2 linked regions of the Homo sapiens genome follow. The protein of the gene in region 1 interacts with the protein of each later gene in a biochemical or structural test. Each region holds a gene or a part of one and is shown on either strand. Other genes may lie near its edges.

Evidence for each region.
Region 2: the proteins of CX3CL1 (region 1) and CX3CR1 are reported together in a solved structure, tested with the Homo sapiens proteins (one study listed by BioGRID).

Annotation. Positions count from the first base shown.
Region 1 is NC_000016.10:57,382,240-57,385,592, forward strand, and holds the end of CX3CL1 (fractalkine isoform 1 precursor), read left to right. Parts: coding exon 1-793; 3' UTR 794-2,805; downstream 2,806-3,353. UniProt on the Homo sapiens protein: Chemokine that acts as a ligand for both CX3CR1 and integrins ITGAV:ITGB3 and ITGA4:ITGB1. The CX3CR1-CX3CL1 signaling exerts distinct functions in different tissue compartments, such as immune response, inflammation, cell adhesion and chemotaxis.
Region 2 is NC_000003.12:39,269,758-39,277,055, forward strand, and holds part of CX3CR1 (CX3C chemokine receptor 1), read right to left. Parts: intron 1-7,298. UniProt on the Homo sapiens protein: Receptor for the C-X3-C chemokine fractalkine (CX3CL1) present on many early leukocyte cells; CX3CR1-CX3CL1 signaling exerts distinct functions in different tissue compartments, such as immune response, inflammation, cell adhesion and chemotaxis.

The sequences.
Region 1 (3,353 bases):
AAGCAGTAGCCTGGAGCCGACTCCTTCTTCCCAGGAAGCACAGAGGGCCCTGGGGACCTCCCCAGAGCTGCCGACGGGCGTGACTGGTTCCTCAGGGACCAGGCTCCCCCCGACGCCAAAGGCTCAGGATGGAGGGCCTGTGGGCACGGAGCTTTTCCGAGTGCCTCCCGTCTCCACTGCCGCCACGTGGCAGAGTTCTGCTCCCCACCAACCTGGGCCCAGCCTCTGGGCTGAGGCAAAGACCTCTGAGGCCCCGTCCACCCAGGACCCCTCCACCCAGGCCTCCACTGCGTCCTCCCCAGCCCCAGAGGAGAATGCTCCGTCTGAAGGCCAGCGTGTGTGGGGTCAGGGACAGAGCCCCAGGCCAGAGAACTCTCTGGAGCGGGAGGAGATGGGTCCCGTGCCAGCGCACACGGATGCCTTCCAGGACTGGGGGCCTGGCAGCATGGCCCACGTCTCTGTGGTCCCTGTCTCCTCAGAAGGGACCCCCAGCAGGGAGCCAGTGGCTTCAGGCAGCTGGACCCCTAAGGCTGAGGAACCCATCCATGCCACCATGGACCCCCAGAGGCTGGGCGTCCTTATCACTCCTGTCCCTGACGCCCAGGCTGCCACCCGGAGGCAGGCGGTGGGGCTGCTGGCCTTCCTTGGCCTCCTCTTCTGCCTGGGGGTGGCCATGTTCACCTACCAGAGCCTCCAGGGCTGCCCTCGAAAGATGGCAGGAGAGATGGCGGAGGGCCTTCGCTACATCCCCCGGAGCTGTGGTAGTAATTCATATGTCCTGGTGCCCGTGTGAACTCCTCTGGCCTGTGTCTAGTTGTTTGATTCAGACAGCTGCCTGGGATCCCTCATCCTCATACCCACCCCCACCCAAGGGCCTGGCCTGAGCTGGGATGATTGGAGGGGGGAGGTGGGATCCTCCAGGTGCACAAGCTCCAAGCTCCCAGGCATTCCCCAGGAGGCCAGCCTTGACCATTCTCCACCTGCCAGGGACAGAGGGGGTGGCCTCCCAACTCACCCCAGCCCCAAAACTCTCCTCTGCTGCTGGCTGGTTAGAGGTTCCCTTTGACGCCATCCCAGCCCCAATGAACAATTATTTATTAAATGCCCAGCCCCTTCTGACCCATGCTGCCCTGTGAGTACTACAGTCCTCCCATCTCACACATGAGCATCAGGCCAGGCCCTCTGCCCACTCCCTGCAACCTGATTGTGTCTCTTGGTCCTGCTGCAGTTGCCAGTCACCCCGGCCACCTGCGGTGCTATCTCCCCCAGCCCCATCCTCTGTACAGAGCCCACGCCCCCACTGGTGACATGTCTTTTCTTGCATGAGGCTAGTGTGGTGTTTCCTGGCACTGCTTCCAGTGAGGCTCTGCCCTTGGTTAGGCATTGTGGGAAGGGGAGATAAGGGTATCTGGTGACTTTCCTCTTTGGTCTACACTGTGCTGAGTCTGAAGGCTGGGTTCTGATCCTAGTTCCACCATCAAGCCACCAACATACTCCCATCTGTGAAAGGAAAGAGGGAGGTAAGGAATACCTGTCCCCCTGACAACACTCATTGACCTGAGGCCCTTCTCTCCAGCCCCTGGATGCAGCCTCACAGTCCTTACCAGCAGAGCACCTTAGACAGTCCCTGCCAATGGACTAACTTGTCTTTGGACCCTGAGGCCCAGAGGGCCTGCAAGGGAGTGAGTTGATAGCACAGACCCTGCCCTGTGGGCCCCCAAATGGAAATGGGCAGAGCAGAGACCATCCCTGAAGGCCCCGCCCAGGCTTAGTCACTGAGACAGCCCGGGCTCTGCCTCCCATCACCCGCTAAGAGGGAGGGAGGGCTCCAGACACATGTCCAAGAAGCCCAGGAAAGGCTCCAGGAGCAGCCACATTCCTGATGCTTCTTCAGAGACTCCTGCAGGCAGCCAGGCCACAAGACCCTTGTGGTCCCACCCCACACACGCCAGATTCTTTCCTGAGGCTGGGCTCCCTTCCCACCTCTCTCACTCCTTGAAAACACTGTTCTCTGCCCTCCAAGACCTTCTCCTTCACCTTTGTCCCCACCGCAGACAGGACCAGGGATTTCCATGATGTTTTCCATGAGTCCCCTGTTTGTTTCTGAAAGGGACGCTACCCGGGAAGGGGGCTGGGACATGGGAAAGGGGAAGTTGTAGGCATAAAGTCAGGGGTTCCCTTTTTTGGCTGCTGAAGGCTCGAGCATGCCTGGATGGGGCTGCACCGGCTGGCCTGGCCCCTCAGGGTCCCTGGTGGCAGCTCACCTCTCCCTTGGATTGTCCCCGACCCTTGCCGTCTACCTGAGGGGCCTCTTATGGGCTGGGTTCTACCCAGGTGCTAGGAACACTCCTTCACAGATGGGTGCTTGGAGGAAGGAAACCCAGCTCTGGTCCATAGAGAGCAAGACGCTGTGCTGCCCTGCCCACCTGGCCTCTGCACTCCCCTGCTGGGTGTGGCGCAGCATATTCAGGAAGCTCAGGGCCTGGCTCAGGTGGGGTCACTCTGGCAGCTCAGAGAGGGTGGGAGTGGGCCCAATGCACTTTGTTCTGGCTCTTCCAGGCTGGGAGAGCCTTCCAGGGGTGGGACACCCTGTGATGGGGCCCTGCCTCCTTTGTGAGGAAGCCGCTGGGGCCAGTTGGTCCCCCTTCCATGGACTTTGTTAGTTTCTCCAAGCAGGACATGGACAAGGATGATCTAGGAAGACTTTGGAAAGAGTAGGAAGACTTTGGAAAGACTTTTCCAACCCTCATCACCAACGTCTGTGCCATTTTGTATTTTACTAATAAAATTTAAAAGTCTTGTGAATCAATATGGGTGATTTCTCTGGGGACAAGTGCAGCAATCAGGGCTTCGGAGGGGAAGGAGTGGGGCAGGGCTGGGGGCAAGACCCCTTTCAGCCCCGGAGACCCCTATCTCCAGTTCACCTGGGGCAGAAAAGCAGACATTTTTACAGTCAGCAAGAGAAGAAGCACCAGGGATTAGAGTGAGGAGTGCCGAGCCCTCAGCCCAGCTCTGTTCTGCCCGGCTGTGTGATGTTGGGCCAGGGCCCTCACCTCTCTGGGTCTTATAAATGTGAGGCCTCTCCTAGTCTGGCAGGACTCAGAATCCCTCATGAAGCCCTACCCCATGCCTGCCGAACCACCATCCCAGGGGCCCTAGGACCACTCTCAGTGAACTGGTGCCCCATGGGAGGAAACTGGCCCATAGTTTCCTCTTTGTGGCCTTCCTGGTTCAGATGAAGATCAAAGAGGGATTACTTCTTAAGGGACTTGGGAGTTCATAGATGTGCCCCAAGTGTGAGCCTCGTGGTGGCCCCTAAGCTCTTCAGTGTTCTGGGAAGCTTCATAAGAGCT
Region 2 (7,298 bases), on another chromosome or scaffold:
TAGAATTGCTGTGGCTCCCACAGGAGTCTCTCAGTGCTGGCACAGTGGGTGCATGCAGTGGGTGCTCACCCAGCATATCATGGTCCCTGCTATGAGCCATCTGGACCATGCTACAGAGGAAAGAGCAGTACCAATATCGCTTTCTATGAGTTCCCACGTGACTCTGAGGAACAGCACTGGTCATTGAGGGACATTTTTGATCTTCATGTTCACATTTCCATTTTGCACACACTGTGCCTCACAGGAGGCACAGCTGGGTGAAGCACCTGGCCCATCCCACAGCTAGAAGCAGGGGGAGCAGGACTGAGGCCAAGGCCTGTGCTGTTCCCACTCTCCCTTGAAGATGGAGGAGACTCGGGCCCTGGGCTTAGGGGCCAAATCCTGGCAGGGGAGAAGAGTCAAGGACTCGATGACTATCAAACAGTTGAGTCCCAAGTCCAGTGGTAAAAAGGCATCAAAACAACAGCCTTAGCTTCCTCCTCTAAAAAAATAACCTCTTAGGTTTGTTGAGAGCATAAGAATTAAATTACTTTAAATTGCTTATTGGGATTTATCGTAGACACACACATGCTCAAGCAAGTGTGTACACTGTCACTGCAACAAGCTTCAAATATAAATGAAGGGAAACAACCCCAATGTCCATCACTAGGGACAGATCAAAGCACGATAAGTCCAATTAATGGAATACCAAGCAGCTGCTTAAAAACCAAACAGTTTCTAGCTCTTGGAAACTTGGGAAAAACAACAAAAACAGGCAGATCTGTATATTCTGTCATGCAACAATCTCTAAGATATACTGGTAAGTGAAAAAAGCTAGGTGAGGTACCATGTACATAGTATGCTGTCATTTGTGGAAAAGAATGATGTGTGCGTATTTTGTATAAAGTTTAAATATCTCTTAAGGAATACACTGGTGGTGGTAATTATCCCTGGAGAGGGATTCTGAAGGATTGAGGATATGGGAAAGGAGACAGTTTTTATGGTAAACTTTTGGAAATGTTTTTTACCATGTACACATACTACGTATTTTGGAAAATAGTTTAATTAATTCGTTTGGAATTTTAAAATAAAAATCAACAAAAATATGAGTTATATGAAAAACTAAAAAATGAGTAACTTAGTACAATAACAAGCATGCTGCACATAATAAGTGGTAGCCAACATATAAAAGGATCATCTCTATTTTTATGGGCAAATAGATGAATTCAGAGAGGGTGAATAACTTGTTCGAGGTGATGCAGTGTGTGTGCAATAGGGCTGCAGTGAGGGCCCAGATGTGTTCGGCCTCAGCACTTTTTTTTAACTTCACATTACAGCCCTTCCCCATTCCTTTTTCCCAAGACTAGGAGTTCCTAAGAGAAGACCCACGTCCTCTTCAGCTCTGCAGGCCAATGTTCAACAGAAGGCCTGGTACACAGCGAATGCCATATGAATATTTGCAGAAGGATAAATATTATATCCTAGACCTTTGTTCCAAAGAGTTTCATCTAGTAGTGATGACAGCACCCTATCAGTCACCCTGATCCCAGGGGTGCTCATGAGCACACAGGTGTCCTTTCTGATCATAGGCTAGGAAGCCTTGAACTCTGAGAAGTTAGTAGGTGCCTGATGTGTTAAATGAATTAATAAATAAGTGAATGAAAGACTTCAAGGAGCAAGAAAAGAGATTCGTCAGCTCTATAATATGGAGCCCCAGGAGATGAGAAGAGGCTCACCAGCTCTCCACAGTCAGAAGACAACTTGGCAAACACAACCTCTCATTTCAACCATACCTCTCACATGTGGCTTTTGAACATATGTGGTCATGAAATAGATATCAGCGTGGGTAATTGCAGCTCTGTCTTCTGTGCAAATCTCAAGAAACAGCAGGAGTCATTGGGCAACATAGGGTTTTGCCTGGTTCTGAAGAGACTTGTATTCTGTGTGCTGGAGCTAGTTCAAACCGCCCTTGGTAGCCAAATGCCCCAGAGCATGTGAAGGCACCATTTACATAAAAAATCTGACATCGCTGAAGCTGTGTCCTTCGCAGAAGTATTCCAGTGAACTTGATAGCTTTAGCAAGGCGCTTTTTAAGGAAGACTGAGCCTGAGCTGAGTGTACCTCCTATTTGTGGATCCTCCAAGATGTTCAAGGTTTGGGAGCTGAGCCTAAGATAGGGCCTCCTGGCAGCAGATGCGAGTGTGGCCGTGCCTTGGGGGTGGCCCTCAGGGTGGTCAAAGGCCTGCCAGAGGTCTAATTGGTTTTCATCTTAGACTGGACCATGGCTTTCCTTTGTCCCTGAGGGACACTAGAAACCAAGTGGAAGAATCAAATGAGAAGACTTTGCAGTGTCTACCCAGCTGGGTTTCATATCCACAAGGGTTGTAAGACGCATGCATTCTGGGATGTTGCACTAATAAAGGCATCATCAACTAAGGCTGCACTTTACAACTTAGTGCAGCAGCCAGTAAGAATTTAAACCTTCTCTGGGCCATCCTCAGGCCTCCTTACCCACTATTCAGTTAAGCCAAGGTTTTACTAAATGGCCTTGAGCTGGGAGAGTTTCGGTGAACCTAGACAGAGCTTTGAGTGTACACATGTTTCACACCCAAGTAGAAATTTGTAAAATTCCCCACTCACATCCGTGGCTGATCCTGGTCTACTTCCTCTGGCCTACTTCCTTTTCTCATGCCTGCTCATTTATTTTTTAACTTTTTAGGGGAGGGACACTCATCATTACCCATTGTTTCCAATCAGCTTCCCTTTTCTATACTTCCCTTCTTCTTTAGGTGGCCAGAATCCATTTCTTCTTCAATCTGACATTCTTTTATGTTGCTTTCTCCCTCTCTTTTGGCTTCACATCCAGCTTACTGTTTTCTAAATCCAGTGTATCTTCTGGTAGTTTTTACCCTCCTGGTCTCTGTTTATGGCTTTTTAGTAAAAGTGAAGACTGGGTTTGAGGTTCAGTCTGGTGCCAAGAAAATTGTGAGGCTTAATTTTTTTCTTTGTACCAAATGAGAGTAGAGAATTGCTTGAGGAGCCCCAACCCAAACTTTCCTTATGAGGATGCCATTGTGCTGTTGACATTGTGGAATCTGAAGTCACCCTCAGAAAGCCCCAGTTTAGAAAGGGAGGAGGCTGCCATTCCCGGATGCCTGCTAAGTGTCATGCTCCACACACAAGATCCCACCACATTCTCTTCACAACCCCACTGGAGAAATGATGATCCCCATGGTATAAATTAACCAGCAGAGGCCCAGAGATTTGGTTAACTTGTTCAAGGAAGCAAAAGAGCCAGGATCTCAACCCCAGATGCCTCTTTCCACAAAGCCTGTGCTCCTTGCACCGCACAATGCTTTTCTCCCTGGAGGGGAAATCTGCAGGATATTGCAGGCCACTTCTCTCGAAGTAGAACTGAAAATAGTAGACCCAGGCCCCTTAAGAGAAACTGGTCCATGATGCATCTCTGAATTCGTTGGGGTTCTCCCCCTGTGGGCTCATAACCCAGCAGGCTGCCCCTCAGGGATTGGTGAGTGGAAAATGGAATGCGGGATATTATTTGCTCCTCTAGCCACCACTAGGTGGTCCACACTGCCAGATCCCCAGGAATCTAGCTCCCAGCAACCATAGTGAGGAAACTGGGGTCATTTTCTCTGGAGAGGAAAAGTCTGAAGGCTGAAGGTTTAGCCTATTTTCTGCCTTCAAATATATGATAGTGCTTTTAAGAGCCACATGTTTCACAGGAGCCCATACATTTCTGAGCATGAATGGCTGAGAGACCCTGGGCAGGTCACTCTGCTCTGCTTCAGTTTCTTGATGTATGAAATTAAAGCATTGGACCAGACCACCTCTAAGAGCCTTGCTAGCTCTGGCATGCTCAATTTTTCAGCAAGAATCAAACAGAAGGAAACTGTTTGTTTGAGACAGGATCTCGCTCTGTTGCCCAGGCTGGAGTGCAGTGGCATGATCATAGCTCACTACAGCCTTGAACTCCTGGGATGTAGCAATCCTCCCACCTCAGTCTCCTAAGTAGCTGGGAGTATAGGTGTGCACCACCATGCCCAGCTATTTTTGGTAGATATGGGGTCTTACTATGTTGACCAGGCTGGTCTTGAACATCTGGCCTCAAGAGATCCTCCTGCCTGGGCCTCTCAAAGTGCCAGGATTACAGGTGTGAGCCATCATGCCTGGCCAAGGAAGCAGTCTTAAAGAGCAACATGAGTCCTAGGTCAGCAAAAGTGTGGTCTATTGTCAACAGAGAGGCTGCCCAGCAGCCTGCCCAGGGAACATGACACTTCTACACTTCTGGGGCACAGCCTGTGAGCATTCAGATGAGGTTCTGTTTGGAGATAGGGAGCTGGATCAGTTGATCAAGTCTTGGCAAATCTTGTTTACCTTGTACTAGATAGAAAGGTTCTCAGTCGGCTGCCATGCCCAGACCCCTGACTGTTTGGGAAGCCAAGTTTTACCAGGTCCTGATGGTTTTCTCATTTATGATGGCAGCTATTTTTATAACACATATCCCTTGGGATTCAGAGAGAGCTAAGGCTGATGGGGAGAGGGGTGCTGAATTCCATGTTAAGGAGCTATAAGGAAACATTTTATACCCCATCCCCTATGCAAGTAAATTCAGTGACTATCTATTCCTATAGCAATGAGCCCATCTAGAACAGCATGGCATTGTCTACCCACCAGTTTTTCACACAGGCCAAATGCACACCCAACCCTTCCCTCCAACCACCACCAAAAAAAAAAAAAAAAAAAAAATAGCAACAGGAGAATCCTATTGGGTTTAGTGAATTGCCCCTTTACAAAACCTGCCATTATTTTGTGTTTGAAGCCCCACCCTTCCCTTTCCTCTTCAAAATACTTTATGGTATTTATTTATTTATGTCAAAGTAAACTGTGAAATTTTGAAGGGAAATACTTCATAATTTTTTTAATAATTAGGAAAGAGATAGACTTGTTAATTGTTTAATTATTAATTAAGTCAATATTTTTGAGCATCTGTACCATATTCTAGTCTAAGTAGAAATTAAAAATAAAAACATTTAATTATTCTTGTTAAAAATAAGGACAGAGATCTCCTCACCTTCTGTTTTTTTCTCAGAGCATTTACTTTAGAAAACTTTTTTTTTTTTTGACATGGAGTTTCACTCTCATCGCCCAGGCTGGAGTGCAATGGTGCCATCTTGGCTCACTGCCACCTCCACCTCCTGGGTTCAAGTGATTCTCCTGCCTCAGCCTCCCAAGTAGCTGGGATTACAGGCGCCCACCACCATGCCCAGCTAATTTTTGTATTTTTAGTAGAGACAAGGTTTCACCATGTTGGCCAGGCTGATCTCAAATTCCTGACTTCAGGTGATCCACCCGCCTCAGCCTCTCAAAGTGCTGGGAATACAGGTGTGAGCCACCGTGCCCACCTAGAAAACTTTTACATACTTTCTCCTCTCTTTGAACATGTGTAAATCCTTTTGAAACTAGATAGGCTTTTTGTCAGCTTTATGAGCTAAGCTAGTCTTTCCCAAGGACCTGGGCGTCATCTCTTTGAAATGTAAACAAACCTAAGGGAGATAGTGCTTCTATCTCTTAGTTTCTGTGGGAAGGTATGAGCCTAACTGAAGAGCCTTGCTCAGTGCTGCAAAATTACCCCTTGTCTTAAAGATAAATTTGATTTTCCTCTGGGTAGAGCCAGTTAGCTAACACAAGTGGTTACCCTAATTACCAGGTAAATTTAGAGTGAACCATGTACGGCAAACGGTGCTGGCAAGACCTCTTACTTGAGGAACAGTTATTGTTTGCCTTGATAACATGTATGTAACAGGTTGTATCTACTTGGCTATACAAAAGGGGGAGATTTCTTTCTGTTCTTGCAACCTCTTAGTAGATGGCCTATAATGCTCTGCATATTTTGGTTTACTGCTTATTCCATAATAAAACTGTTCTTTCTCTACTCCTTTTGTGGAGAGAATCTCTGTGTTGAAAGAAGACTTTGTTAATTATATTTCACCAATACTAGGCACTGTGCTAGATTCTGTAGAGGCAAAAGTGTTTAAGATACAGTTCCTAGAAGTGTTTATTATTGCTCAGTAACAGAATATAAGAAAAGTCATGGGAAGCCCAAGGATTGAACCTCTATATCTGTCTCCTTAAAAACTGGGGGAGGGTGATCAAGAGGATATCACAAAAAAAAAAAAAAAAATCTGCCGTTTGAGCTGATGTTTTAAGGATGGGGAAAGTCTTCCAGGTTGACCAAGATGGAGGTGGCAGTGAATAGTGGGTGGGCTTTGAAGACAAAGGCACAGAGGGTCTGAGCATAGGAAGGTTTCCTGGGGCCAAGGCCAGGCAGAGGGAAATAGGAACAGAAGGCAGTGAAGATGGTGGAGTTGGGAGGAGCCCACATGCTCCCAGAGTGTTCAGGAAAGTCAGTTTAGGCTGAGTGCAGGGCTTCGGGGAAGGATGCAGAGAAAGCCAAGGCTGAAAAGGGAGAAGAGGGACATAGAGAGGGGTCTGAAATTCCACACTAAGTAACTACAAGGAAAAATGATGAAAGACTTTGAAATAGACACACACTGAAGATTACTGGGAGTCCTTTCTGGCATACTCTTTGGGGCTACCTCCCCCTTTTATTGCCTGAGCTAATTTTACAGCACCGTAGGTTATAGCAGATAGCAGTGCAAATGACTCTTGCTCATGGAAATACAAATTTTGTCTAGTGGAGATGCACTGGATTAAGTGCCCTGTAGATATGGACCAATTGTGCCTTTATCTCTAAATTCATCTCAGTATTTCTGGAAGCATCTCACCCATGCTGTTGGTTTGGCTGTAGACTGCTAATTCTCCTTGCTGCGTAGGATTCCACTGTGTGACTAGTCCATGATTTATTGCCATTTCTACTGCTAATGCACACATAGGTGGCTTTCAGTTTGTTGCTAGTTTGGACAATGTTGCCGTGAAAATTTTTGTGCATGTACATCTCCTACAACGTGGATGCATTTTAAAAGTTTAGTCTTGAGCCAAACCAAAAAGTATGAATCCAAATATGAAGATCAAAAATAGGCAAAGCTAAGCTATATTGTTTAGGGATGATATTTAGATTCAGTCAAACTATAGGGAAAAGCAAGGAAGTGATCACCATAGAAGTCAGACTTGTGGTTCTTTGTGGGAGAGGAAGAGGCTGTGGTCAGGAAGGGACATGAGAGAGGCTTCTGGGGTTCTCTTTCTCAGCCTGGATGGTAGTAATGTGGGAAATTAAATCTAATACTTTGCTAACCCAGACATTGTTCTTTCAGTGTGTTGTATTTTGCAATAAACAAAAT